7 separate regions of the Homo sapiens genome follow, and all the other regions are linked to region 2. The links come from fine-mapping of genetic effects on gene expression. A gene starts in region 2. Each other region holds a variant in brackets. All regions are shown on one strand. Distances are between the middles of the regions.

Region 1 (4,067 bases), 130 kb after region 2:
TTACAGTGATAGCAAGTATATATAGTGTATAAAAGACCCATTTAATCCTGAAGTTAAAAGGTTCTGGGAAATAGATGGGGGTGTTAGGGGATTGGCAAGGAGAGAAATATGGCCTGAATATGAAAGATGAAGTGAAAATCTTAATTTTTATTTCTCAAAATGGCAAATGATCTAATGTGTTTCCCACATTTCTGTCTTGTCCTGTTCATTAGAAAATGTGTTTAGTCTGGTTCGTAAGACCTGAGTAATTAATCAGGGCTGAGTACAGTAAAATAATATACCTAGCTCAGGTGTCATAGTGACACTTTGCATTTGATGGGCTCCTATTACAGTTTTTACAAAGGACATTGGTATGACATTTTAGCTCTTGTCCCTTTATTTCCTTTTTTACAGATTGCAGAACAGAGGTTCGGGATCAACATCCCACACAAGTTCAGCATCCACAACTACAAAGTGCCAACATTCTGCGATCACTGTGGCTCACTGCTCTGGGGAATAATGCGACAAGGACTTCAGTGTAAAAGTGAGATGCTGAGGTGCTGGGTACCCACCTCTTCATGGGAACACTATGCCCTAAGCTTTCAGAATTCTGTGGACTCAGAATCTGTCCTAGAACTGATGGTTTTAGATATGTTGTAAATCAACATCTTAGTCATTTTAAACTTACATGTTTCTTGTCAGGCATGTAAAGAGAACTTCATCTGATGCCAACATTTTCTAATCATAGGACATTAAGTCAAATGGTATATTCAGTGATCTAGCTCGCTAGCTGACAAATACAGCCTAGACACTGTATTTTAATAGGTGTTTGGAAGAGAAAAAGATGGGATCTTAGTCAGAAATGGAAGATGGTTGAGTCAGGTGAGACACTAAAAAGAAAAAAATAAATAAAAATTTCAAAGAAATGGAAGTTAGGAGGAGGTGAGGAGGTGAGATGGCCAAATGAGAAGGTTGGGTTAAGAGTAAGAAATGGCAGAATAGATCTGATGATCTCACCAGAAATCAGCAGGAATGGAGTTGTCACAGCATAAAAAGAGCTGCCCTGGGTCTTGTGAAAGAGATTGGAGACAGGGGTAGAATGAAGGAAGATAAAGCCTTGATTGTAAGCTTGCATCTCACCAGCTGTGCCCAGTGGAGTGAGAGTTTGGAGCTTTGGCCCTAGCAAAGGCTCTGAGTGGGTGAGAGCTGATCCCTGTCCTGTTAGGAGTTAGGGAGCTGTTGGCCTTGTGCCATCTTGTATGGAAATGTAATGATCTGACTGCCGTGGGGTGCACCTGAAGCCTTTCTTATCAGACACACCCCAAGTCGCCAGTTGAGGAGAACAATGGTGAGGTAGAATTGGCATGAGTATAGCCAGACAACTTCCATTGACTGCTTGGACTTACAGAGCCTGCTTCTGTCAACAAAAAGGGGCCAGTCACTTGTCTTTAAGAAGGGCACATTCTTCTATCTCTGTAGAACACTAATAATTTTTTTCTCATAAAACCAAAACAGTAGCCAGCTCATGGATAACTTGTAGGGCGTTGGTCCAGGTGCAGCTTGATCTTAGCGTGACGGTCTCACCTGGGTATGGGTTCCCAGTGGGAAATCCCTTTCTGCCTTGCATTGTTGCTGATGCGCAGAGCCATGCATGGGGCTCATCTGCATTGTCCTCTTCCCTAGTGGCCTGAGGGTAGCACACCTGCAGCAATCCGGCTCTTGTGATTTTTGCCTTTATGGTCACTTGGTGGTTTTGAAAGGCTTCTGTAGGCTCGTGTGTCTTACACCTGTCTTCCTGAGAGGGGTGGGTTTCCCATGAAGCTTAAGTCTCAGGGCTCCTCTCTCTCAAGGGCACCTTCCAAAGCCCTCTACTTGATTTGGTGTTCTTTTTCTTAAAGAAGGCCTCCTAAATTATGTAAATTCAGGCCCCACAAAACCTGGATCTGTGTGTGCTTCCAAGATGGACTGACTCCATAAAACAGGAATGTGTTGCTTGTCGCTTCAGTTTCACCTCCCATCAGCAGGGCCCATGTCAAAAAACTGTCTCAGAATTTATTCCAGCTGATAACGCCTCAGATCCTTCATTGTCCCCAGGCAGCTTCCGGTGCCTCAGGAGCTTAGCTTTCTTTGCTCGCCTCTTCAACTGCCATTTGTACTCTGACCTTCAGAAAGTTTTAAAAGTTGCCTTTCCCCACTATGAAGCAGTTAGAACCACAGGCTGCAAATGCTGAGAACCACAGGCTCACAGGATGCCCATCTCTGTGCTGTGAGGCCTGCCCAACCACAACAATACTCAGAAAGAAAGCTGCAGATAGAGGTTTTTCTTGTAGAAACACCATTTCCATCCT[G/A]TTTGAACAGTGATCTACATGTGGCATTTAAACTGCTACCTTTTATTTCACTGTTGAGAGACAGAAAAAAATACAGTTGACATGATTCTTTGTTATTTAATTGCCTGTGAATTGCCGCTACGATAAAGGTTTTAATCTTAGATCATACTAAGGCAGCAATGCCTGTTACATGTGATTTAGATGAATGGGTTTCATCAAATCATGGTGGAAAAAATGTATTTGAAATATATTATTCTTTAGTATGCTTGCCTTTCTGCTTCTGCAGAAAACAGAAATAGATAAAATGTCAGGAACTATTACTAGTGTGAGCTTAATTTTATGAGAAAATGATACTGTTCAGCCGGTATAATTCCTCTGTTATAATCTTTTAGGCTATTAAAGTTCTCTGTTGCAGCACATGTTGAATTGGTTCCTTTCTGAACATGGATTCTGTTTTCCTTTTCCCTCTAGTATGTAAAATGAATGTGCATATTCGATGTCAAGCGAACGTGGCCCCTAACTGTGGGGTAAATGCGGTGGAACTTGCCAAGACCCTGGCAGGGATGGGTCTCCAACCCGGAAATATTTCTCCAACCTCGGTGAGACTTTGCTTTTTTTCCATGTCTCGTAATTTAGAAGTTGCTCAGATGTGATGAGCCCAAATGAGAGCATGTGGCCTCATCAAAGTTCCTAATCTTAGCAAATACAATAAACAGACTTATTGCCTTTCTTTCTTTCTTTCTCTTTCTTTCTTTCTTTTTTCTTTTCTTTCTTTCTCTTTCTTTCTTTCTTCCTTTCTTTCTTTCTCTCTTTCTCCCTTTTTTTTCTCTCTCTCTCCTCTCCTTTCCTCTCCTTTCCTTTTTCCTTCCTTCCTCCCTTCCCCTTCCCCTTCCCCTTCCCTGTCTTCATTCCTTTTTGAGATGGGGTCTTCCTCTGTCACCCAGGCTGGAGTGCAGTGGCACAATTATGGTTCTCTGCAGACTCGACTGCCTAGGCTCAAGTGATCCTCCTACCTCAGTCTCCCAAGTAGGTGGGACTGCAGGTGTGCACCACTATGTCAGGGTAATTTTTTATTTTTTTTTTTGTAGAGATGGAGTCTCACTTTGTTGCGCAGGCTGGTCTCAAACTCCTGGGCTCAAGCGATCCTCTCGCTTTGGCCTCCCAAAGTGTTGGGATTGCACAGGTGTGAGCCACTGTGTCTGGCTGAAATAGCATTTTTAATAGCAATTTGTTTCACGGATAAGATTGTATATACAGTTATATGACAAGAAATAATGAGCATGAGCAACAAGTAATAAACAGAAAGCAAAAGAAGGACTTTTTTCCTTTCTTTCCTTTTTTTTTTCTTTTTTCTTTTTTCTATTTGTTTTTTGAGACAGAGTCTCGCTTTGTCACCCAGCCTGGAGTGCAGTGATATTCGCTCACTGCAACCTCCACCTCCCAGGTTCAAGCAATTCTCCTGCCTCAGCCTCCCGAGCAGCTGGAATTACAGGTGCCCACTACCGCGCCTGGCTGATTTTTGTATTTTTAGTAAGACGGAGTTTCTCCATGTTGGCCAGGCTGGTCTCAAACTTCTGATCTCAAGTGATCTGCCCACCTTGGCTTCCCAAAGTGCTGGAATTACAGGCATGAGCTGCCACGCCCAGCCTTTCTTTTCTGTTTTAAAATCAGCTTCCTGTCACTGTGGTCTGGTGAAAGCCTAAAACCCAGGATCCTGGGTTATGCTTTTGTCTGGGGACCAGGCAGGACAGGTGACCAGTA
Region 2 (4,067 bases):
CAGGCCAACCCATCTGTCTCCTCAGGAGCTCTCAATGAGCTGATCTCTCTGCTATTTGCTTTTTCAAGGAACCCTTCCCTGACCACCCATCCAGTTATAATACATCACCCCTTGGCACCGTGGGCTTTTCCTTCACTGCACCCTCTTCTATTAGTTGTTTTTCCTCCTTGTGGGACTGTAAGCCCCAGGAGGGCAGGCACCATGGCTGTCTGACCCACTGCTCTGTCACCATTGCCAATCCTGATAGGTACTGATAGGGTGAAGATGGAGTGTCTGGTATCGTCATATCCCAGTCCCAGGACAGCTGTGTGGCCACCTACCATTTGGGGACTGTTTTCTTTTTAAAATTTAAAAAAAAATTTAAAGTCTACACCCCATGATTCTGTATGGGGACTGTTTTCTTTTAGCCCCAAAGTCCAACAGGAGCAAATCCTTTAGTGGCTCTTAAAGCTAGAGTTCAGCTGTTTGGAGGAAAGGGTGACAGAGCTGACCCACAGGGTAGATGCGACATCTTCCCCTGGAGCACTAAGGCCAAACAGGAGCCCCCTGGACGTTTGGGAGCAGGCTTTACAAGCCCTGCCTAAAGCTAAGATGTCATTAGAGTGATGCGTTGCATCCCTGCCTTGTTCTCTAAGGAAGCTTTGGTGTTTTCAAGACAGGCCCTTTCCCCCCTGGCCCATTGTCCTTACTTGTTTTCATTCTGTATAGTGCTGTTATTACGGGTCAGGCCTCCTTGCACTCATGTGAAATCGTTGAGAACCTACTCAATTAGAAAGTTCTGAACAGGGCCTTAGAGGAGTGGGGGCTAGAAAGATGAACCTGGGGCCAGGCACGGGGGCTCATGCCTGTAATCTTAACACTTTAGGAGGCAGGGGCTGGAAGATCACTTGAACCTGGGAGCTGGAGGTTATGGTAAGCCATGATCACACCGCTGTATTCCAGCCTGGATGACAAAGCAAAACCCAGTCTCTAAAACATAAAAGAAAGAAAGGAGGGAAGGAAGAAAGAAAGGAATGAAAGCAAGCCGAATCTGCTCCGAGGGAACCAGTATAGCAAGACAGAATGTAATCAAGTATCTTAAGAGTGGCCTAGGCTTGGCTGGGTGCTGTGGCTCACGCCTGTAATCTCAGCACTTTGGGAGGCCGAGGCAGGCGAATCACTTGAGGTCGGGAGTTTGAGACCAGCCTGACCAACATGGAGAAACCCTGTCTCTACTAAAAATACAAAATTAGCCGGGCGTGGTGGCGCATGCCTGTAATTCCAGCTACTCGGGAGGCTGGGGCAGGTGAATCGCTCGAACCTGGGAGGCGGAGGTTGCGGTGAGCCGAGATGGCGCCATTGCACTCCAGCCTGGGCAACAAAAGCGAAACTCCGTCTCAAAAACAACAACAACAACAACAACAAAAAGTGGCCTAGGCTTTTTGGGGAACAAATTGGTTGTGGCTGGCCCTCAGGGAGCAAGCTTTGCGGCATAGCAGCGTAGGCTAAAAGGTCCTCCCCGGAGACAAAATCTGCAGGGACCACGGGGTGGGAAGCATCAGAAGGCTGCCCACTCTGACTGCAAATACAACAAGCTGGAGTGTTCCTAGAAGAGGCAATTTCTTCCGCGTGTGTGTTGGGGACAGCCTGTGTGTGTGAACATTTTCTGCCCTTGCCGCGCAGAGCTGGGTGGACCAGAAACCACCCGCAGAGGAAGAGACTTATTACCTCTTGGCCATGTCTGTCTCCAGAAGAACCGACCTTTCCTGCTCTATGTGCAACAAGACACACCTTCCGAGGAAGGAGGCGAACAGGATTTCCATCATTACTACTGCCCTATTAAAACACACACATACACACAACTGTGTAATTAGCCTCTGCAGGAAAGGCGCACAAACAGGATGCGTTCGAGCTGACCCCGGGATGAGCCATCCCTGTAAATATTAGGAAAAAGAACCTCCCCGCCGTGCCCCCGCCTCCGGCCAGGGCCTCTTGGGGATGGCCCTGCAGGGTCACCAGCCCACCGGGGAGGTTGGGAGAGAGGGGGCGGGCGACTCCTCGCCGCGCGGGTTCCTGGCTGGAGCGCCCTCCTCTGCGTCCTCCCAACCTTCCATCGCTCCCCAGGTCAGTCTACCACGCCTCAGGTGTTTGCTCGGGCTGGGCCACGAACCCTTTCCTTTTTGGCCTGCGCCCGGGGTGGCCCCTAACCCGCAGCGCACGGCCAGACCCAGCGCTACAAGGAGGGCGCGCAGGGCGGCGCAAGCGGGCACTGGCCTCCCGGGGGCTTGCGCGGGGATCCACCCACCGCAGGGCCGGGCCGCGGACCGCGGGCCACGCCCCTGGGGTCCGGAAGGCGCGGGAGCGGACGCGGGGGTTCTGTGAACTTGGAACCTGGCGGTGCGAGGTTCTCGCCGGGGATGCGGCGGCGGCAGCTGCTTCCTGGTTTGAAGCTCGCCGAGTGGGGGAGAGCGTGAGCCTTCGGAGGCGGGGGCAGGAGGAGAAGCAAGAGGAGGCGGGGGAAGAGACGCTTGGGGCTGGGGCTCACCGGACGGGTAGGTCCGGCTCTCCAGGGAGAGGAGCTGCCCGGCCCTGGAGAAGGGGCGAGTCCTGCGCGAGTCCCCGGGAGGCGCCGCGCGCTTGGAAGGGACGGTCGGGCTTCCCCGGCCCGCTGAGGGCTCGGCGGCGGGCTCCCCTCCTTTCCACCTCGGGAGGGAGGGAAGGAGGGGAGGGAAAAGTCCCACGGAGGAGGCAGAATGGCCAGTCGAGGGGCGCTTAGGCGCTGCCTTTCCCCAGGGCTGCCTCGACTCCTGCACCTGTCCCGAGGGCTGGCCTGAGACGGGACTCCCGGTTCTCCCGCTGCGAAGCAGCGCGGCCCCCCGGGGCCGGGGCAGCGGCGCCGGCATGTCGTCTGGCACCATGAAGTTCAATGGCTATTTGAGGGTCCGCATCGGTGAGGCAGTGGGGCTGCAGCCCACCCGCTGGTCCCTGCGCCACTCGCTCTTCAAGAAGGGCCACCAGCTGCTGGACCCCTATCTGACGGTGAGCGTGGACCAGGTGCGCGTGGGCCAGACCAGCACCAAGCAGAAGACCAACAAACCCACGTACAACGAGGAGTTTTGCGCTAACGTCACCGACGGCGGCCACCTCGAGTTGGCCGTCTTCCACGAGACGCCCCTGGGCTACGACCACTTCGTGGCCAACTGCACCCTGCAGTTCCAGGAGCTGCTGCGCACGACCGGCGCCTCGGACACCTTCGAGGGTTGGGTGAGTAGCGGTGACCCCTTCCCTTTGTGTCCACCCAACCCCCGTTCCCCTTATGTTTTTCAAAACTCACCCGGGTCCCGCTTTCCCATCGCTTTGTGGCTGAGGGAATTCCCTCCAGACTTTGGTCTTCGTCCACGTGGCCGCGGCACTGGTGACGCGACCGCGGTGGGTGTGTGCAGGCGCAGGTGTGTCTCCAGGAAGCCGGCCTGGACACGATCCCCTTTCAGGACAGCGGCTTGGCCTAACGGGAAGTCGGGCAGGGGTCCAGGGCGGTCACCCTTTCCGCCCAGTCTTTGGGTAAGGAGCTCCAACTTTCAGCACGAGAGTGATAGGTAGGAAAGGCAGGGAAGGAGTGATACAAAAGGGACTTGATTTGGGTAAAGTGCTTCAAGCGCTACTTAGGAGAAAGCCGTACATTCTCGCGAGTATTATTCATAATGTTTATGGATACATGTTGGTTCAGCCGCTCAGACGTGCACACGTGTTTCGGCTTGCACATCCCAGAGGTACATGAGCTACACTGGCAGGGAAATGAGCGCCTGGGTCTGCACGTTGGCAGTTTTATTATTTAGCATTTTTCCAAGGAGATGAGATTTACATATACTTGCAAGTAACTTAGTCAGTCCGAGGTGGGAGTCCTGCAGTGTGGGTTTCTGCTGCTATGGGTCTGAGAAGAGGCTGTAAGGACTCCTCAGGAGGTTGTTAACTGTCTTCCCTCCCCCCATCACCAGCCTGTGTTCCTGGGTATTGACGTGTAGCTACCCGCAGCTCTCCCCTTGCCTCTGCTTTTCACATAGTTCCCAGGAGGCATAATTTCTGCTGTA
Region 3 (4,067 bases), 23 kb after region 2:
ATTGGTAGGAACTTTCTTCATGAGTTCAGAGGCTTTGTCTTGGTTCCCGTTGTATTGCCAGTGCATGGCCCCTGGTAGGTGCTGAGTAAATGTTGGTTGAATTGGATGCCTTGAGGTGAGGCATGAGAAAGGGTTCTCCTCCTCCCCCTGAAGGTGGTGAAGATAGTTGTGACAGTTGAGACTTGCATGGGGCTGACCTTGTGAGGTCCTAAGCCTGGTGACCAGCCTCTGCAGTGTAACTGGGCTGTCTCATGGGAAGGGCAGAGCCTTTCCTACGTGGCCAACTCTGTGTTCTGAACAGGAGTGCCAAACTCATTTGGAGGGGAAGGGAGCGCCCTTTTAAAGCCTCAACTACTAATTAAATTCAAGCAGAAGATGGTGAAGGTGGAGCTAACTCATTTATTAGCATATAATATGATCAACCTAACTCATATAAATGTAGATTATCTTGGTTTGTCTTTTCCTGGCTGCAGAAAAGGCTTGGAGAGGTGCCTTGGATTGTGAGTTAGTCAGTGAGCAGCTGCTTAAAGATTTGAAAAATCCTAGAATATGTCATCTCTGTAGGCTTTATCCTTTAATTAATTATGGATTTTTATCTGCATATATGTGAAGCTAATGATTGACTTGGTTCGGACACTGAATTGTCGGCTTAAACCTGCCATTCCACTGGGCTTCATCACTATGTTCTATGGGTGTGAAGCCTTTGTTTTTTCAGAGACCCATTTCCACCAGCGGGTTTGCACTGTAAGTGTTTCCACAGGAACTCTGCCCTTTGCCAGTGTCACTGTTGTGGCTATGCAGCAGAACCCACAGGGCGGAGGTGTTTCAGCCCTCACTGAAAATGCAACAGATCTTAACATCTCTTGCTGCAAATTTTCCAGTGTGTTCTGGTCTACCTTGGTATCTTAAAACCAGGCTCACTGACTACCACATGAGAAATGACAGTGGGGTGTCTTAAATGATCTGTTGAAGACCAGCAGCCAAAAAGATTGCCCTTAGTGTTTCTCTCTACCGGCTAACATTAGACAATGCCATGTAGAAGCTGCTGTTAGGGTTTGAGAACTGTGTCGCCTCATTCTCAAGATAGCCAAGGAAGTGTCATCTCTGGAGAAGGCAGTTCTGTCTCTTTCAGTTTCTCCATGGATCCGATATTGTTCTGAAAGAGGTGGTTTTACCAATTCGTCTCACACAGACTTCTTGCCTTTACTTTTATCTGACTGCTGACAGGGTGGGCTGGAATATAATCGCTACTTAACTGGACTTGACTTTCAAGGCCTGATTGGCGTTTCCAGTATAGCAGTTGCCTGAGTCATCTAGTTTTGGAACTGATAAATCAAAGGACTGGCTTGGAGGCTAGTGTCCTGTCTGGAGAATGGGCTTAATGTAACTTCAGTTAAGAAATTAATGAATCTGAAATAGTTATAACCCAAGGAAGAGATTTTCCTAAAGAATGTCCCTTTAGAGAAATAATGACCAGTTCCCTCAAAAAAAAAAAAAAAAAAAAAAAAGGAAAAACAGACACTAGACTGGATAGAAAAGACTTACATGTTGAGGCTGATGATTTCTCTTATGGAACTATAAAAGGACTGGACTCTAAGGAAATGAGGGTCTTCAACTTCATTGGTGATATTTCCAGTTGTTCTGGAGCTGTGATAGAACCAGGACTAGAGAATGCAGGGCACGATGATAGATTTTTTTTTATGTAGCACTTTTAAACATAAAAAATATATATCTAATGTGCCAATGCAAGACCTGGCCTTTTTGTAATCAAGTAATATTTTGAGTAATAATTGATTGCACAACATCCTGTGACACACTGTGAAAGAGTAAAATTGGCTTAAAAATTTTAAGTACAAAGACATTTCAGAAGAGTTTTGTCCATAACTTTGTTAGACTGAAATGAGGAATTACATTTGGCACCAGGAAATGGATCTGGATTATTTAGAACAAATGTTTTCCAGGTTTGAATCTTCTATGTGGAAGTACAGCCTGACTTCTTTGCCTTTTCCCTGGTCCGGGATCCTGACAGTCAGTTCTTCAGCTCTGTGCCTCCAGAATTTCATGTTTATGCTGCACAAGGCCTGTATTTTATAATGGTGGCTCTTTTGGACGATGACTTCCTCGATGGTGAAACTTCCAGTAATCTCCCTCATCATACTGAAATGATATCAGTATATCATCAGAACACCATGGAGCTTGTCATTTGAGGGACACAGCTTGCTTGTGTGCTTGGGAAAGAAGAGGTTTAGCATGGTTTCAGGTCAGTGATGAGTCCAATGATCTCTGCAAGTTCCCTTAGCTCTGAGAATTCTGATGTCATATGCACTTCTGCCGCCAGAGTTGCTGCTTACTGGATGCGTAAGAAGAAAGGAAAATAAATGTAAAATGCCTGGC[A/G]CCACTGAGGAAGTAGGGTGAGGAGTTAAGTTAGACAGTGACTGGCATTTCCCAGCCACACTAGTACAGAAGTGTCCTGTGGTACGAACGGAGGCAGGCTGGGGGGTTCCATTGTGTGCCAGGTGTTTCCATGAAAATAAACTGTTGAGTGCCAGGTATGGCAGCTGCAAACAGGGATTTGGGGGGCAAAATTTAATCTTTTTTTGTGATTTGTTGAATGAAGTGCCTAATGTGTCTCAGTAACTTACTTGAGAGGAAAAGAGCCACAAGCAAGGTAGTGGAGAGTGCTGGATGGTTGCCTTGTGACCAGACCTGTTCTTTTAAGGCCTCTGGAGCCAGCTGTGGGACGATCAATCCAGCAGCTGCAGGTACGCCTCGGGTGACACTTGGGTCTGTAGTCAGCGGGGTTGCCTGTGACTGAGAGTGGCAGAGTGGTCCCTTGCACTGATGAATCCTGACCCTGCTGATCTTTGCTTGGGTGATGGCTGTTTGTGTGCTATTTCTAGAAGTTCCTCCCGCCTGCCTATGTGACCTGTTTTCACCAGATCCAGATTGCTAGCCCCTTAAAGCTTGAAGAACCTTAAAGGTCATCTGGAACAAAAGATTTATTTATTTTTAGCCCGGTGGCCACCCTGAACCCCCCAGTTGATTGATTGAGGCTAGTCTTGAGCGTGCCCTGCTTCACATGCTAGTTTTCCAGTTTCTACTTTGGGAGAATGACCTTATCATTAGGCTGGCCAAGAGGGCTTCTTTCTGTTCCTGTCACAGTACTAGGCTGTATACTCATTCACCCTCAGTTCCCTTTTCTGGTATATTTCTTAACAAATTATTTCCCTCTTTCCACTATTTTTAGGGGTAACAAGTCTAAGATATTTACATATAAATGGCTCTCCCTTCTCAAACCCTTTTCTAGCAAGCACTTTCTGGGAGGACAGTGTCTTACCAGGATCTTCTGTCACTGTGGTCCCTTTGAGGGTAGAAAGAATAGATTGTTGTGAAGTCTTTTGTCAGCCTCTTCATGGTTATAAACGTACTTAGTTTTCCAGACTATGTAGGTTTTAGACTTCAAGTGAAAAGAGTATACGTTGTTATGCAGCAATAGAAAACAAAACAACTACCACAAAATTGTATTTTTTCTCCATCCAGAGGCTTTAACTTTCAACATTTGTATATGGAGGCAAGGCTGACAGCCACAGCAGTAATTTCATGATGGCTGAAATAGCTGTGAACTGTGCATTAACTTGTTCCTTCTCTCTTAAATTCTGCTGCAGTGTTGGAGCAGGGAAGGCGAGCAGAGGAGTGATGAATAGAGTAGCAAGTGGGATAATATACAATAATAGGAGATACACAATAAGGATTAATTAGGTGTCAGGCTAAGTATTTCATGTGCATTAACTAATTTAATCCTCAGAATACCTTCAAGATATTCAGATTCTCTTATTATCCTCCTCTTTGGGAGGCAACTGAGGCTCAGAGAGGTTAAGATACTTGCCCCAAATAAGTGGTGAAGGCTGGGCACGGTGGCCCAGCACTTTGGGAGGCCAAGGCAGGAGGATTGCTTGAGCCCAGGAGTTTGAGACCAGCCTGGACAACATAGCAAGACCCTGTCTCTCTTTTTTTTTTTTTAAAGTTGTGGAGCTAGAGTTTGAGCACCTGCATGGAACCACTAAGCT
Region 4 (4,067 bases), 150 kb after region 2:
CAGTTATAACAACCAAACATATCGCCAGACATTGGTTCCCAGGGGGGAAGAATCTCCCCTGGCTCCCTTACATGACTGTCAGGTGATTGTCTTTGGTATGAAAAGTCAAATGGGTTAGACGATCACTTTTCTTTTTATAGAAGCCAAAGCCAAATGTGTCAGACCTTCTTTATGAAAATATAAGCGTTATTTTTTTTCTGAGTTTGTAGAAAGGCAAAGTTCCTGTTGGGGGCTCATTACAGCTGTTGGTGCCTGCACTGACAGTGGCATTGTTAGGGATGGAGCCCCTGAGCTCGGGGGAGACAGCGGAAGCGTGCAGCGTCTGTTTAATGTGAGTGAGGGCTGGCATGCTGCTGGCAGCTCTCAACAGTGAAGCCTGCTGCTCGATAAGGCATTATTATCAGAGCCTGGGGGCATCCAGGGAGCAAAAGATTAGCTGACTGAGCATATATCTAAAATGGGTTATTTTTAAAAAGCAAGCAGTACAAATACTGCAGCTTGTCTTGTTTTAGCATTTAATAATTACACTTTCACTTTACCAGCAAGGCATTGAGTCAGTGGCATTTTATGAAAAGCATCCTCCCAAACCTGAACTTTGTGAGTCAGATTCCCATCCTGTGTGTGGTACATGTGGTTGGATTGTACAAACAGATAATCAGAGTTTTGCAAAATGTTTCCCAACCAGCATGGGAAAACGTGCTGATAGCAATATGATTGGGCTTTGAGGGAGAGCCACTTGCTGGCTTTTTTTCTTTTGTTTCCCATACATGGAAATGCCATTTCAACTTGAAATGTGGATACCTTACCAGAGGATTGCTTGAGCCCGGGAGGTTGAGGCTGCATTAGCGAACTGGGACTGCACCACTGCATTCCAGCCTGGATGACAAAGTGAGACTCCTGTCTCAATTTTTTAAAAACCCACACACAAAAAAAACAACAAAACAAAAAGTAGAACCTTAAATGCTATCTTAAGGCTGAATAGTCTCTAAATATTGAAAGTAGACCCTAGCCAAAAGAGACATTACCTGTTTCTGTAATATAATGAATGGTATTAGTGTACTTATCTTGCATTTTAAATTCAATTCTGTAAATGTTTATGGAGCATGCATTATGTGCCAGGGATGAAGACACAAGAACAAAATGTGGACCTGCCTTTTAATTGCTTACAGTCAAAGGTCATGATAACACCATGTGATGGAGAGAAGAAAGTCATGATTGATCCTCGTGGAGGTTGGAAGGACTTCCCAGAGGAGGGGCTGTGTGAGCTGTGTTTTGAAGATGAATAGGGATCTTATAGTCACAAGAGGAGGGCATAGACTCCCAGACAGAGGTAACAGCAGTGCAAAGGCACAGAGGCTTAAAATTGCAGGATGTGCCCAGGAAACCCCAAATGACTAGATGAGGCAGATTTGTAAGAAGGGAAATGGTGGTGGTTGGCGGCGGGGGTAGGGGGGTGGTGATGAAGAAGCAAAGTCATAATGGGTCTGATGTCCTTTGCTGAGGAGCTTAGACTAAACTGTTTAGGTAAAAGGAGCCAGCAAAATCTTTAAGTGAGGGAGTAACATAAGATTTGCATGTTAGAAGGCTCTCTCTGGCTGCTATGTACAGAGGGAGGCTAATGGCAGCAGATCTGGTGAGGATGCTGGGCCCGTGATCTGGGAACTTGCCTGCCCCAAGGCAGCAATCATGGGAGTGGAGTCAAGGAAACACTAAAGAAGTAGACATGATAGGACTTTTTAAGTGGGAATGGCCAGGGCTCTGGCCATTTGGAAGCCTAAAGAGAATGGAATAGCATGAGTTCGGTTTGGGGGAAATTCAGTGGTAAGATGCTTGTTTGTCAGAAACACACTTGAGATGGGAGATCAGTTTGGTGTCATCCATGTCCTCTTGGTAAGTGGAAACTATAATATAAAATCTTTCAGGCCAGGTGCAGTGGCTCACACCTGTAATCCCAGCACTTTGGGAGGCCAAGGTGAGTGGATCACCTGAGGTCAGGAGTTCGAGACCAGCCTGGCCAACATGGCAAAACCCTGTCTCTACTAAAAATACAAAAATTAGCCGGGCATGGTGGCACGCACCTGTAATCCCAGCTACTCAGGAGGTTGAGGCAGGGAGAATCGCTTGCACCCGGGAGGCAAAGGTTGCAGTGAACCAAGATCACGCCATTGCACTCCAGCCTGGGCAACAGAGCGAGACTCTGTCTTAAAAAAAAAAAAAATCAAAAATCTTTTAGTAGATGTTTATAGAGAGAGAAGAGAGGAGACTTGAAGAAGGAATTCTAAGTAAGGGTTAAGGTTGAGTGGAAAAAAGAAGAAGAATCAGAAGGAAGTGGTTTCATAGTAGGATAAATCAAGTGCTGAGATGAAGTCAGTTCACTAACAGACTCAGAGTTCTATTGGATACGGCATGAGGTTCTTGGTGTCACCATCTTAG[G/T]ATCTGCTCATTTTTGGGGTTTTAAGAACCTGTCTGAACTCCACTTAGCCAACTGAAGCTTGCCTTCAAAGTTAACACAATGTGCTTTCTCCCATATAAACCTTTTAAGCTGTTTCTGATGACTGTTCCCCTTCCTGTTAGAGCTCCACCTCTTTTAATTTAGCCTCCATACCTTTAGAGTAAGGTCTGCAACTTTCTTCCTTAATTGACAGTGGAGATCAATATGTAACCCAGATTGCAAAAATGGTTTGGGAACACTGCATGTTCTCACTCATAGGTGGGAGTTGAACACATGGACACAGGGTGGGAAACATCACACACTGGGGCCTGGCAGGGGATGGGGGGCTGGGGGAGGGATAGCATTAGGAGAAATACCTAATGTAAATGACGAGTTGATGGGTACAGCAAACCAACATGGCACATATATACCTATGTAACAAACCTGCACGTTGTGCACATGTACCCTAGAACTTAAAGTATAATTTTAAAAAAATTTTTTAATAGTTTGGGAAGAAATTGTGGGCATGTCATTTGCTTGAACAGATTTTGTTCCCCAGCCAGAGGACCAGAGAAGAGTTTGTCATGGCTACAGTGGAGGAATCAAACTCAGAATAGCATGTGAAAGGCACATTCCACACAGAAACTTCGGCCCGTGCATCAGCACTGCAGACAGGGGGAGAGGAAATGAATTCTCAGCCAGTAGATTCCCAGGCATCACCTTGAGGCAGATATGGCATATTCTTGGCCATAGTCTCTACTTCTCTAACTGGGCAAAGTGTCTAATCAACTATAACCCAAAATATCTTCCCACATGGCATAAGTGTCGAATTCATACATAGATCAGAGGGAGAAATGAAATTGTGGTTGTCTTAAAAGTTTACACAGTTTAGGGATCTCCATCATGAAAAATGATCTAAATAAATGAAATGGTATTTTTACTCTTTATCCTACAAGCCCTATACAAACTAAGTCCATAAATATCCTATTTGATGCTTAAACCAAAAGCTTTATAAAGAGAATTTCACTATGTGAAATAATGACTTGAAGAAATCCTATTGTGGATGCTTTTGTTAAGTTGCTAAACCTTTTTTAAAAAGTAGATAATCATCCAAGATATCTTCTTTGTGACTCTTAAGTTTTAGTGTATTTCAAATGTGGATAGTTTTTGACTAGGAGGTTTGTTCAAACGTTCTTCTCGACCACTAGGGGGTGCTCTAAAGGTTAGTGATGTCTAAATGATTGACCAATCAATTAAAACACCGTGCCCAGTTAGCAATCATCTCCACTGAGAGATGCCTGCTTTACCAGGCTAAAAAAATGATCTTTATCATGGCATAGAGACTATAAAAGCTGTGTCCTTTTATTTTCATTAACCTAATTAGAAGTCAAGCTAATTGTAGGACTTCATAGAACTGGCATCGGGAATAGCATGCAACTGTTAAAAAAATCATGGTCTTGATGACTAATTATATCAGGAAATAATATGCAATATAAATGAAAAGAGAAGTGTATGTTTTTTACTTTTTCCTTTCTGTTTTTAAAACATGCTATAAAATGTTAAGTATAATTAGGACACAAAGGAAAAATTAAATCTAGTTAACATTACCTTGAAAACTTCTTATTTGCCCTGAAAT
Region 5 (4,067 bases), 82 kb after region 2:
TTTGCCCCAATGGTGCAAAAGAGAAATGGTGGGTAAAAGCATGGCACCAAACTATAAAGTCATCATTGTATTCTTGATGGCCACGTAGTTGCAGGAGGAAGAAATCTAGTTTCACTTAAGAATGTCTTTGATGGAACAGTAAACATTATTCATGTTATTAAAGGTCAATCCTTGACTATATACCTTTGTAACATTCTGTGTGACAAAATGGGAAATATGCTAAAAGCATTCCTGCTTCATACTGAAATACTGTTGTGTCTCAAGGAAAAGCACTTGTGTGATTGAGTTGTTAGCTGAGCTAGCCACTTTTTGCATGGAACACCATTTTTACTTTGAAAGAATGACAGACAAACCATACTGTGGAACTGGCAGATTTTTCAGACATTGTCTAAAAAACGAATGAACTGCGCCTGTTACTTCAGGGAAAACAACTGTAAGTATTTGGTGCCAGTGATAAAATTAGAGCCTTCAAAACATAATTCGAATTTTGGAAAGTTTATATCCACCATTGTGAGCTTGACAACTTCCCAGTACTTATTCTTTTCTCATGAGTTTGTTGTTATTAACGATTGTAATTTTTAAAAATTGTGTTATGAGATATGTCAACATTTAGAAGATGACTTCCAATGATTCAGTGAACACGTATTTTCACAATGGCCAGTACGAGATGTTATAAAATCATTTATGGGTCAAGGATCTCTTGAAAGCGTAAGGTAGACTCATGTATATTAATTTAAAGTATGAAAAGTTCATTGATACAGTTTTATATTGCAACCAACTTTTGAGAAACTACGCCTTGTTTACTTTTGTGTGGTATTAAAGAAGAATATCTGCAATTATCTGAAAAATCTATTAAAATTATATTTTTAAATTACTCTGTGTGAGGCTGGACTGTATTCATGTACTTCAACTAGAACAACATTACAGTGGCTTGAATACAGAAGCAGATATGAGAATCTAGCTGTCAGGCTGGGCGCAGTGGCTCACGCCTGTAATCCCAGCACTTTGGGAGGCCGAGGCGGGCAGATCACGAGGTCAGGAGATCAAGACCATCCTGGCCAACATGGTGAAACCCCGTCTCTACTAAAAATACAAAAAAAAATTAGCTGGGTGTGGTGGTGCGTGCCTGTAATCCCAGCTACTCGGGAGGCTGAGGCAGGAGAATCACTTGAACCAGGGAGTCAGAGGTTGCAGTGAGCCAATATTGTGCCACTGCACTCCAGCCTGGTGACAGAGCGAAACTCTGTCTCAAAAAAAAAGAAAAAAAGAAAAAAGAAAGAATCTAGCTGTCTTTTTTTTTAATTAATTAATTAATTTATTTATTTTATTTTTATTTATTATTATTAGACTTTAAGTTTTAGGGTACATGTGCACAATGTGCAGGTTAGTTACATATATATACATGTGCCATGCTGGTGCGCTGCACCCACTAACTCATCCTCTAGCATTAGGTATATCTCCCAATGCTATCCCTCCCGCCTCCCCACTAGCTGTCTTCTTTTAAGTCAGACATTAAAGAGATTTGCAAATTGTAAAATAATGCCACTCTCTCTATCTTTGGGGGGATGTTTGAAAATGTAGTTATATTTTATTAAAATGTGTATACTAACATGTAATGGAATTGTTATTGTTTTTAATAAATGATAAATATTTTTAAATGTCTCCATTTAAATTTCTAATTTGACAAATATCAGTAGAATCCATTCAAAGGGGTACTTGGACCAAAAAATTTTACAATTTCTAGGTTATTTTTTTCTTACATTCTTTCAAAAGCCCAGTGCTTTAAATTTTAATGACCACAGGGAGAAGGAACTGACACATATTTGTGTATGTTATAATCAGAAAAAAATATGTACAGTTAGGTGATACAGGTGACAGAATTGTCATTTTTTTGAAACTTTCTTTTTGTTTCTGATTATTTCTGCTGTGCA[G/A]TGTACTTTTTCAGCCAGTTTTTGTTATAAGCCTGTTCTCATAAAAATAAGGTCAGGAAGTGACACCAAAACAACTCAGAAGCCTGTGGTGGTTTCTAACTTTAGAGCTGCCTGTTACAGATAGCTTCATGCTAAACCTTTGCTTGATTTGAGCAGAACAAGGCAGTCACGATACTTCTGAACAAGTGATCAGTGCTGTGAGCACTAAAAGCTGAACCTCAAAAACAGCTCAAGATCCATGGACAGAGCCTCAGGAGACACATTTCTATGGCACTCGCTTACTGACTAGCATTCTCCTTTTCTAATCAAGGTTCTTGAAAAACAGAGGCTGACTCGTTTGTTAATTTTTTTCAAGCTTTATTGTTTTTTCCTTGAAATTATAGTGATGTGGTATTCTCTCTATGGAACTGAGGTTTGGGTAAAACAAGAATGATTTAATTTTTTGATAGAAAAGTTAATTGCTCCAGTGTCTGTTTTCATTATACTTCCATTTTATTTCCAGCAACCCCTTATCTCTCTGCTCTCTTTGTTTCAAATGAACAAGACAGTAGAGTTTGTTTTCCAGGCCACTTGTGTTGGTAACCCTTTTCCTAAGCTTTCCCTAATAACACCCTGTGTCAGTGGACAGGTAGTAGGTAGGAAGACCTGCTTCTTCCCTTCTACCGTGAAACTCGTCTTCAGCATCATTCTTTCATCCTGATGGCTGAGAGTTGTGTTCTGGTCTCAAGTCAGCAGTGGATAACCCACTGCATGAAGTTGATGGGGAGTGTGGGCATGGACAACAGTGGCCTGAGGTTGCAGATACATTCTTTGTATATGTAAGAGACCACCTTATATTTTGTAAGTGGAAACTTAGTTCTCATAGGATTTTGGAGAAAATCAGTTGCCTCCTCTAGGAATTTTCATTTGTTTACAAAATGTCCTGGGTCAAGCAATACTTTTATGTTATCCCCACTTAGGTTTAGTGGATCCATCCATCCATCCATCCACCCACCCACCCACCCACAGAGTATTTATGTAGAAAACTATGTAATGGATGTATATATTCATGCATGTGTGTATGCATGTACTTAGTAATGACACTGGTTTGTTCTCACAGAACTCAAAATTTGGTGTGTATGTGGAGACATAAACAATTAGAAAGGTTAACATAATATGTACCTCCACAGGTGGTACATGCTATGGAGAAAATAAAACAGAGTAAGAGGACAGAGATGGGTCCTATGTGTATGCTGTTTTGTTCAAATCAGATGGTCAGGGAAGGCCCCTCTGATGAGGTATCATTTGAGCCAGAGGTCTGAAGAAAGGGAGGGAGTGGACCTTGAGTCTGTCTATTGGGATGGGGAACAGGAAGTGCAAATACTGTAAGGGTTGCAGCAGGGAGAGGAGTGTAGCTGGGCCTTGAGGTCAGGGGAGGTGCCCACATGGTTGTTGGCACAACTTTGGTGCCCTGCTAATGTCACTTTCCTCTTCAAGAATACCCTTGTCACTTAAGTGATGTTCACTTATGCTTGCTGCTGGCTTACCATTTGGCTCACTGAGCACGTCTTTTCCCCTTTGGTTAGGGGCTTGAAGAGCACAGCATCACATCTATTTATGACTTGATGTATTTTGCTAATGCGGAAACCATTCCAAATTCATGATAACAACTTTCTCCAGTTCTGTGAATTCCCTCATGGTTTCTTTTTGTTCTAAGCCAAATTAGGAGCCAATCCCCAGCTTAATAAGCATTAAAAGTTCAAATTGACTGTCTGGAAATCTATAACAAGTCCATGCACTCCTAAATATAATTAGCTGTAATTCAGTTCTAGTTATGGATTATTAAGAAATTACTCTTATTTGAGCACCTCACTCATCAAAAATAAAGTCAGAAAATTTAGGCGCAGCTGGAATCTTCTGCTCTTTTTTTTTTTTTTGAGACGGAGTCTCACTCTTGTCGCCCAGGCTGGAGTGCAGTGGCGCAATCTCAGCTCACTGCAACCTCCACCTCCCGGGTTCAAGCGATTCTGCTGCCTCAGCCTCCTGAGTAGCTGGGATTACAGGCGCGCAGCACCACGCCCAGCTAATTTTTGTATTTTTAGTAGAGATGGGGCTTCACCATGTTGGCCAGGCTGGTCTCGAACTCCTGATCTCAGG
Region 6 (4,067 bases), 200 kb after region 2:
CATTTGATGAACATTCAGTATATGTTAACCACTGAAGACACTGTTATTCTTGTTATTCACAAAAGCTTTTTTCCAGGTTTTCTAGACAGACCCACAGACTCACCACCCCCAAATGAGCAACAGACAAATGGCAGTATGCTGACAATCATAAATTGACTGTGTATTTTATGATAATGGGTATCAAAGTTGTACTCTATTAAAGAATTATTATCTTTGAGATTCAGATATTAAAATGTGTATAGATGAAATAGCTCATATCCTGGATTTGTTTCAAAATAATCTGATAAAAGATGGATCAGGGAGGGAGGGAGTCGATGTAGCGAGGGAGCATGTTTGGACGTGCATTGGCAGGTGCCGAGGCTGTGTGATCAGTATGGGAGTTGTGTCATTCTCCCTACTTTTGTCTGTTTTGAAATTTCCCATAATAAAAGTTGAAAAATATGTTAAAAATAGTTCATATAAATAGCCTCCTAGATTCATTCTTGTTCAAGGAGCCAGCTCTCAACTCGCTTTCCTTTATTTCTTTTGGAAGAGTAACTGACTCTAGTGATCTAAGCAGTAAGACTCATGTCAATCTGTTTTATTACTCTCAGGATAGCTTATGGTGGAAACAAAATAAATCCAATTTCTGAATCTCCTTTGTCTTCAATCACTTGGGAATTCTCTCTGAAACTACTGTGGGCATTTTAAGTAACCCTGATTACCCAGCAAGAACAATGTAGCTTTCAGACAAGCACAGAGGATAGAATAACTCTTTCTACCCTTCTATGCTTGCATGACAAAAGCTGTAGCTATTAAATACCGGTGCTCAATGAGCTAATGAATGGCAAGCCGGTAACTGTGGTTTTGGCATTTTAGTATTTGAGCCTCTGCCCTGTATGAACTTGTAATCTTCATTGTGTAGCCTTGTTAAGTTCAGCTGCTGAGTTACATGTTGGCATAGGAAGCTGAGGTACTCCTAAGCCAAAAACTGACCTCTGCATATTTCAAACTAAAGTCAGGAGGCTTAGGGTGACTTCTTTTGCTTTAAAAAAAATAAAGGCATGATTTCCCTTTAGAGTGGAAGCTGACCATGACTGTAAATGGCTCTATAATCTTTGGCTTTGTTTGAGTCACCCTCTCCATGTTCTGCTCTTCCGTTTGGATGCAAGCCAACATGAGGATAAGTGTTCTGCTTGGTCCTCGTTGTTTAATAATTGACCCTTCAAAACCACTTTCTTTCTCCAGCTTCATCAAAGAGAAGAATTTAAATTTTGATTTCAGGTTTCTTCTTTTCCCTCTTGAGTCTATCTTTAAGGGGTAAAACATGTGGCTTTTTATAAGTTTAAGTACTTTGGAGCAAAGTTTATGGAGTGTCCTTCCATCCCCTAAAAATAAGATAGGCTCTGAGTTGGCCAGGGCAGTCCCATTGGGGTCCATCTGAAATGCTTCTGTTTATCCCTTTGGTCAGCACCTCCTGCCAGGACCATGCTGGAGCTGCTAAGAAGGAAGACAGGTGCACAGACAGAGCCTTC[T/C]GGAATACAGTGCGGGGTATGCTATCATAGAAGTATAAACTGGGCACCCTAGGAGCAGAGTTGATATTGCTATGACTGTCTGGGGACATCAGGACAGACTTCATAGAGCAGGTATGAGATACTTGGGCTGAGGGCAGCACTGGTAGCCTGGAATTACATTATGCTCTTAATTGAACCCTCTTGGGATCCCAGTTTGAGCGATCTGTCTTATTAAATAGCACTTGGTATGAGAACAGCCATGGCGTTTCCTTTACAGCTCATACAGTTCTGAGAATGCCTAAAATTAGATTGAAATCAGGATTAAGGTGTCTAACCTGCCTTTGTGGCCTCGGGCATCCTGTGACCAGGATGAGTCACATCCCTGTCTTGCCCACTTGCGTCTTCTGAGAGCTGCGTCCCAAGACTTCCCCATGCAGAGCTGATTGTAATAGTTGACTGACAAAACTGATGGCCCAGCACTTTCTCTCCCTGCGCGATTCCTGCTGCCCATGACAGCAGCTGAGTAATAAGCAGTCAGACCTCTTACCTGGGACATTAGTCACAAGCTCTTAAGCAACTGCGGGTCAACGCTTGAGACCGTTTTGGATTTCTGTTAGCACTTGTTTCTGTTGCCCAAGAAGATCCTTTCCAAGACTTCAGCAGGCATACTGGCTTCGGGAAAATTCAGAAACTCAGTGACCTTGTTTGGAAATGTGAGTGATAGTGTTCTGGGCTCAGGTCCACACAGGCCTGGCTTGTCAGGCTAGGACACAGTGTCGATAAAGCTGGGCTCATGGGCTTTGTCCCCCCGGCCGTGCTCTCTCCTGGGGCTGCAGACTAGTGTGTCTAACCTCAGCCAGGCGCCTCTCTACTGTGTGCCCGCAGTCCCAGAGGAGCCAGGCACCCAGGCCTTATAGTGCCTCCCAAGTCAGAAAACACTTGTGGAAGAACTGAGAGTGGTGGCCTCCTTCACTGGGCAGGACCACGATCATCCTCACCCCTGCTCCCGTCCTGCGCTGCTACGATTGCAACCTTTTGTAGGTTAAACTGGCTGTGCTCATATTGTATTTATGTGGTGGGGCCAGGGGAGGAAGCAGCTTCCACAAATCAGCCCACTGAAAACAGTCACTTATATGGGACATGGGATTCTGCGTGGAGAAGGGCTGATTTGGAGCCAGGACTGGGTTTGGGTTAGAGACACAGAAAGCTTGCTTCGCTGAAGTGGGTGCACAGGTACTCAGCATGCCTTTGCCTTATGCCCCTGACACCCGGGGAGGCTGCTACTAAGAGCAGAGAAGTCTGTTCTATGTTCCATTGATCTGTGCCATGAAAGCTTTGCTGCTTTAACCACACTTATTGGGGATTCCTGGAATACCAGACTTGGTTTCCATTCCTGGGCATTTTCTAGTGGCCATTTTCTGTAAGACCTGTATGGCCAGGCTGTATCAACTCACAGGACAGCGTGTGGAAACCAGTCATGCCAGTTCTGTCATCACCTACCTCCTCCAAGCCAGCAACGTGATCCAGGCTGGACAGAGACCAACCTTTTGCCTTGGGCCATGCAGGCCAACAGACCTTGATTCTCACACTGAGGCAAGAAAATAGAACCTCGAGTGCCCTGACACAACCCACAGTGAATATGGCACTCCAGAAAGAGCAGTCAGCTGCAGCCACTGAGGAGACGCCACAGCGAGGGGGGCTCCAGGCGGCCCAAGGCCATGGCAGCCTCCCACAATGGCAGTTAACCACAAAGCTCCAGGCCACCTAGCATCCCCCCCGTGACCTGCAGCCTCCTTGTCACTGATCAGCCTATGTGGGTTGCCTCTGAGCATATTGTTCCTTTAAAAACCAAAGTGTAAATGTCTCACCCAAAAGGCCAAGCTGTTGCTCTGTCCAGTCTAGACTGTGCCTGTGAGGCTAGCAATGCCACCCTCCCTCTGTAACAGTGCCCTGGGGTATGGGTGGCAACAGGACAACCAGGTGCTTGTGCTGGGAAGCGGGTTTTTTTAAGAGAGCACTGCCTTTTATTTACAGACAGCTTTATCAGTACATGGCCATGTTCCTGCCGACCTTGAGGACTCTTTACCAAACAATCCTGCTGCTGAATATTCACTTCCTTCCACATGAATTTGCTCTTAGGGATTGGAGGAGGGGTGGAAATGCTTTCAACCAGTCTCCATAATCTAGGCTTCTTGTGCACCTGGGGTACCCACAAACAAACCCTGTTCTCACTCTGGTTTTCCTTTTCCTGATTAACATCCCCACAAACCTACTGGATTTAAGACAAACCCAGAAGTCATCATTTCTGCTGCTTCTCTCTATCCGTCTATCTCTAAGTGATTATCAAGCCTTATTACTGATTTTGCTTTCACCGAAGCCCTGCTTCCTTTCCCCTGACTAACTCCTTATTTTCCATTCCATTCATCACTGTCCTGGTTCAGGTCTTAACATCTCTTCCCTGGACGGTTTCAGCCTCCCCCAACTGATCTTTTCTTGTCCAGCCAGGAATCTGTTACTCCCTTAATGAGGGAGCATCAATGAGTTCCTTTTGCCTAATATGTAAAAATCAAAATT
Region 7 (4,067 bases), 70 kb after region 2:
ACTTGAACCCAGGTGGTCGAGGCTACAGTGAGTCATGATTGCAGCATTGAAGTCCAGCCTGGGTGACAGAGGGAGACTCTGTCTTAAAAAAAAAAAAAATCTTTGAGATCATATGTGGAGGCTGTGTTAGAAACGCTAGGCCAATGCCAGGCACAGTGACTCACACTTGTAATCCCAGTGACTTGAGAGGCTGAGGTGGGAGGATTGCTTGAGCCTAAGAGTTTGAGACTGGGCAACATAGTGAGACCTTGTCTCTACATACATACATACATACCTAGATAAGCAGGCAAGCTGGTTATGGTGGCACATGCCTATAGTCCTAGCTACTTGGGAGGCTGAGGCAGGAGAATCGCTTGAGGCTGGGAGTTCAAGGCTGCAGTGAGCTATGATTGTGCCACTGCACTCCAGCCTGGGAGACAGTGAGACCCTGTCTCAAAAAAAAAAAAAAAGAGAAAAAATGCTAAATAATGATGCCATAGACTTTTCAGATTGGAAGAGTGAGGCTCAGTGTGGTAAAGGACCTTGCCCAGGGTCCAGAACCAGCTGTGACAGAATCAGACTAGAGTTCTTGGCCTGGTCTAGTAGGGGGGCTCTTTCCACTGTACCATGTGACTATTTGCAGCTTATTTTAAATTTAATATTTGACCAAAAATGGTCATTCGTATCTCTAGTGAAACTTCTCTATATGCCAGTCTTCCTCTTCAGATGAAAGGTCAAAGGCAGAAATGGAGCCACAGCCAAAGAAAGAGAAAAATAAAATAAAAATGGAGCCATGGGCAGAATCTGAAAAGATTTATTTAAGGACAATTGTAAATTCATGTATTTGAGTCCACAAGAGCCTCACAATGCAAGGCTTAGAGGTGTTCATGGATAGTGAAGTTAGCATCCGGTAGGAAGAGGGGAGTCCGCCCACCTAAGCTAGTGGTGATCAGAACAGAGCCAGAGGTGCTGTTCATCCTGGGCGCCATGCTGTATGGGGTCTTTCGGAAACTGGACTATATGCAGAGGACGACACCATATGAAAAGACTTCAAGCTGCATTGCTTGCAGAATGCATGTCTTGATATTTCAGCTGATAGGTAACTTCAAGGTATGTTGATACTCCCGTGACTAATTAAGAGTAGCAGTCCGACACAGTGTCTCACGCCTGTAATCCCAGCACTTTGGGAGGCTGAGGCGGGAGGATCATTTGAAGTCAGGAGTTCGAGACCAGCCTGGCCAACATGGTGAAACCCCATCTCTACTAAAAAATACAAAAACAGATCAGATGTGGTGGCACACGCCTGTAATCCCAGCTACTCAGGAGACTGAGGCAGAATTGCTTGAACCTAGGAGATGGAGGTTGCAGTGAGCTGAGATCATGCCACTGCACTCCAGCCTGGGCAACAAAGTGAAACTACCTCTCTCTCTCAAAAAAAAAAGAGTAGTGAATGCAAGGCTCCTAAACTTCCTTCCCTAGTGCTTCCTTAAGATTGACCAGACTTTGGTGGAAATATGTAGCAGAGACTCTTTATACTTTTTACTCCATAAAACTAAAGATTTGCAGTTGACCAAGCCACATGTGTTCATTACCTTGTATGTTGCCGTTATTTCTCTATTTCATATTCTTGCCATGTGGTTTAGTAAAATGCTGCTCTTATAAGCCATATGCATAAGATATGGAGGTCTCAAAAACAATTACCAAGTATGTGGATGTGCCTGTCTATATTATGACAAGCCAAAAATGGGAGAGAATAAAATTCAAGAGGAAGGAAACTGATAAAATGTGGTTT[C/T]TTTTCAGTCTTTACAGTTTTTTGAGCTTTCACTTGTTTCCCTGCCACTCTACTATTTAATGAAAGACTTAGATTTATTTGATTTGTGGCTGTGATTTACACATTAGGCCTCTCTGTGATGAATTGTTTAAGGCCCACAAAAATATTTTAAAACTAACATATAATATACATTTTTTTTTCTCTTTGTAGGTGGATCTCGAGCCAGAGGGGAAAGTATTTGTGGTAATAACCCTTACCGGGAGTTTCACTGAAGGTAAGAATGAGTTTTGGGTAGTTTCCAGAATACATGTAATCTTGGTTTACACTCAGTAGGAATTTCTATCATGGACATTATAAAAAAGAGCATGTTGTAAGAGATGCTTAAAAAATCACTTTCATAAGTTGGGCTGGCTAGTATTTTGTTGCCCAGTGGTCTATTGGTTCAGGTTGCCAAATTAAATATATTTGCTAAATCTGGCAATCTCACGTTTCATTTAACACACTCAATGAGTTTTTGTTTTTAGCCAGTGTCATCGTAGCTGAATGGTTTTTGCGTCTTTTTGGTTCATGACTGTGGAACTCTACGTCTTTGGTTTTGTGCCATCTTTTAGTTTGCCTGTGAATGTCTATGAAAGAAATTTAGGGATCCAGTTATCTTCTTTATAATCTCTATCTCATTTGTGACCTGTAAGGGATTCTGTTCTTCATCTGTGGCTACCGTACTCCCTACTCCCCCATCCAATATTTTTTTTACTTGAGGTAAAATTTATATGGGGGTGAAATGATAGATCAGAAGTGAACAATTTGAATTTTGACAAATGCATACAACTGCATAACCAGCACCCCAATCCAAGATACAGGACATTTCCATTATTGTGAACATTTCCCTGTACCCTTTTTCAATCCCCTGCTCCCAGAGGCAATAAGTAAAGTGCTTTATTTCACCACAGGTTAGTTTTACCTACCCTAGAAGTTCATATACATGGAATTATACAGTATATTCTCTTTTATGTCTGGTTTCTTTCACTCAGCATAGTTTTTAGAAGATTCATATCATTGTGTATATCAGTATTTTTTTCATTTTATTTCTGAGTAGTAGTATCCCATTATATAAATGTAGCATCCATTTGTTTACCCATTCTCCTCTTGGTGGACTTTTGGGGTTTTTCCTATTGTTGTCTATTATGAATAATGCTTTTATTAACCTTCTTACACATAAATTTTTCTGGACATAACACTTTCATTTATCTTGGATAATTATATAGGAGTGGAATTGCTGGGTAATAAAGTAGGTGTGTGTGTAACTTCAGAAGAAACTTCCAGATGGTTTCCAAAGTGGTTTTATTATACTCCCACCAGCAATGCATGAGAGTTCCAATTACTTCATATCCTCATTAACACTTTCTATGGCCATTGCTTTTCATCGTAGACATTCTAGTGGGTATGAAATTATATCCTGTGGGTAAATTTGCATTTCCCTGATGGTGAGTACTTTCTCACATGCTTATTGGTCATTTGTTTGTTTATTTGATAATTTCCAGTTCCAGTCTTTTGTCCTGTTTTCTAAAATTGGATTTGTCTTTCTATTATTGATTTAGAGGAGTTCTTTGTTTTCTGGATATGAGTCCTTTGTGAGAAATAGGTATTGTGATTACTTTTTCCCAGTCTGTGGCTTGCCTTTTCATTTTCTTAATGGTGTCTTTGAGCAAAAGTTTTAAATTTCTATGAAGTTCAATTTGTTAATCTCATCTTTTGTAGTTCATATGTTTTATGTCTTCAGAGATCTCTCTGTCATAGGATCACTAAGATATTCTCCTGTTTCTTTTTTTGTTTTTTTTTTTTAAGAAGCAAATAGTTTTAGGTTTTATGTTTAGGTCTGTATGCCTTCTTAAATTGATATTTGTGTGTGATGTTACAGAGGAGTTGAAACATTTTTTTTCAATACACGAATGCAGTTGTTCTAGCACCATTTATTAAAAGTCTCCCCTGGCCCCTTGAATCACCCTGGAACCTTTGTTGAAAATCAATTGACCATATAATGTGGGTCTGTTTCTGGATTATCTGTTCTGTCCTGTTGATCTGTTTGTCCATCTGATCTCTCTTTCTTTTCTCTACATTATGCCAGTATTACACTGTCTCATTACTGTTGCTTTATAGTGAGTCTTATGGTTACATAGTATGAGCCCTCCAACTCCGTTCTTTTTTGTATGTTTAAGGTTATTTTAGCTATTCTCAGTATTTTGCAATTTGATATCAGTTTTAGAGTCAGCTTATATATTTCCAGACAAAATCCTGCTGTATTTTGAATTGAAATTGT

Which allele goes with the higher level. Positions count from the first base shown, and alleles are read on the strand shown. Sizes are in standard deviations (SD) of each study's normalised expression. Not every link is listed here.
In carriers of allele A in region 3, the expression in monocytes after R848 of the gene that starts at base 2,358 in region 2 tends to be higher than with G alone (moderate effect, 0.59 SD a copy in Quach 2016).

The links. PIP is the estimated chance that this variant, and not a neighbour inherited with it, causes the effect.
Region 1: its variant is fine-mapped to the expression of PRKCH in whole blood (INTERVAL, PIP above 0.99).
Region 3: its variant is fine-mapped to the expression of PRKCH in monocytes after R848 (Quach 2016, PIP 0.95).
Region 4: its variant is fine-mapped to the expression of PRKCH in whole blood (TOPMed, PIP above 0.99).
Region 5: its variant is fine-mapped to the expression of PRKCH in whole blood (TOPMed, PIP above 0.99).
Region 6: its variant is fine-mapped to the expression of PRKCH in whole blood (INTERVAL, PIP 0.94).
Region 7: its variant is fine-mapped to the expression of PRKCH in whole blood (TOPMed, PIP above 0.99).

The regions. Positions count from the first base shown.
Region 1 is chr14:61,450,449-61,454,515 of GRCh38, forward strand. PRKCH (protein kinase C eta) reads left to right here. Exons shown (of 14, transcript NM_006255.5): 6 at 394-523; 7 at 2,778-2,905. Among named protein-coding and RNA genes, the nearest start is that of PRKCH-AS2, 93 kb to the right of the region's middle. The variant G/A (reference allele first, on the strand shown) is at 2,328.
Region 2 is chr14:61,319,222-61,323,288 of GRCh38, forward strand. It overlaps PRKCH (protein kinase C eta), which reads left to right and starts at 2,358. Exons shown (of 14, transcript NM_006255.5): 1 at 2,358-3,243. The coding sequence starts at 2,881. It overlaps PRKCH-AS1 (PRKCH antisense RNA 1), which reads right to left and starts at 3,597. Exons shown (of 5, transcript NR_186042.1): 1 at 3,314-3,597. RefSeq lists silencers at 2,151-2,420, 2,571-2,740 and enhancers at 2,702-3,246, 3,247-3,790.
Region 3 is chr14:61,341,868-61,345,934 of GRCh38, forward strand. The region is part of intron 1 of PRKCH (protein kinase C eta); the gene reads left to right. Among named protein-coding and RNA genes, the nearest start is that of PRKCH-AS1, 21 kb to the left of the region's middle. RefSeq lists an enhancer at 163-222 and a silencer at 782-911. The variant A/G (reference allele first, on the strand shown) is at 2,395.
Region 4 is chr14:61,471,790-61,475,856 of GRCh38, forward strand. The region is part of intron 9 of PRKCH (protein kinase C eta); the gene reads left to right. Among named protein-coding and RNA genes, the nearest start is that of PRKCH-AS2, 72 kb to the right of the region's middle. The variant G/T (reference allele first, on the strand shown) is at 2,434.
Region 5 is chr14:61,401,548-61,405,614 of GRCh38, forward strand. The region is part of intron 2 of PRKCH (protein kinase C eta); the gene reads left to right. Among named protein-coding and RNA genes, the nearest start is that of PRKCH-AS1, 81 kb to the left of the region's middle. The variant G/A (reference allele first, on the strand shown) is at 1,932.
Region 6 is chr14:61,523,602-61,527,668 of GRCh38, forward strand. All of the region lies in intron 10 of PRKCH (protein kinase C eta), which reads left to right. Among named protein-coding and RNA genes, the nearest start is that of PRKCH-AS2, 20 kb to the right of the region's middle. RefSeq lists an enhancer at 1,767-1,916. The variant T/C (reference allele first, on the strand shown) is at 1,515.
Region 7 is chr14:61,389,265-61,393,331 of GRCh38, forward strand. It overlaps PRKCH (protein kinase C eta), which reads left to right. Exons shown (of 14, transcript NM_006255.5): 2 at 1,961-2,024. Among named protein-coding and RNA genes, the nearest start is that of PRKCH-AS1, 68 kb to the left of the region's middle. The variant C/T (reference allele first, on the strand shown) is at 1,772.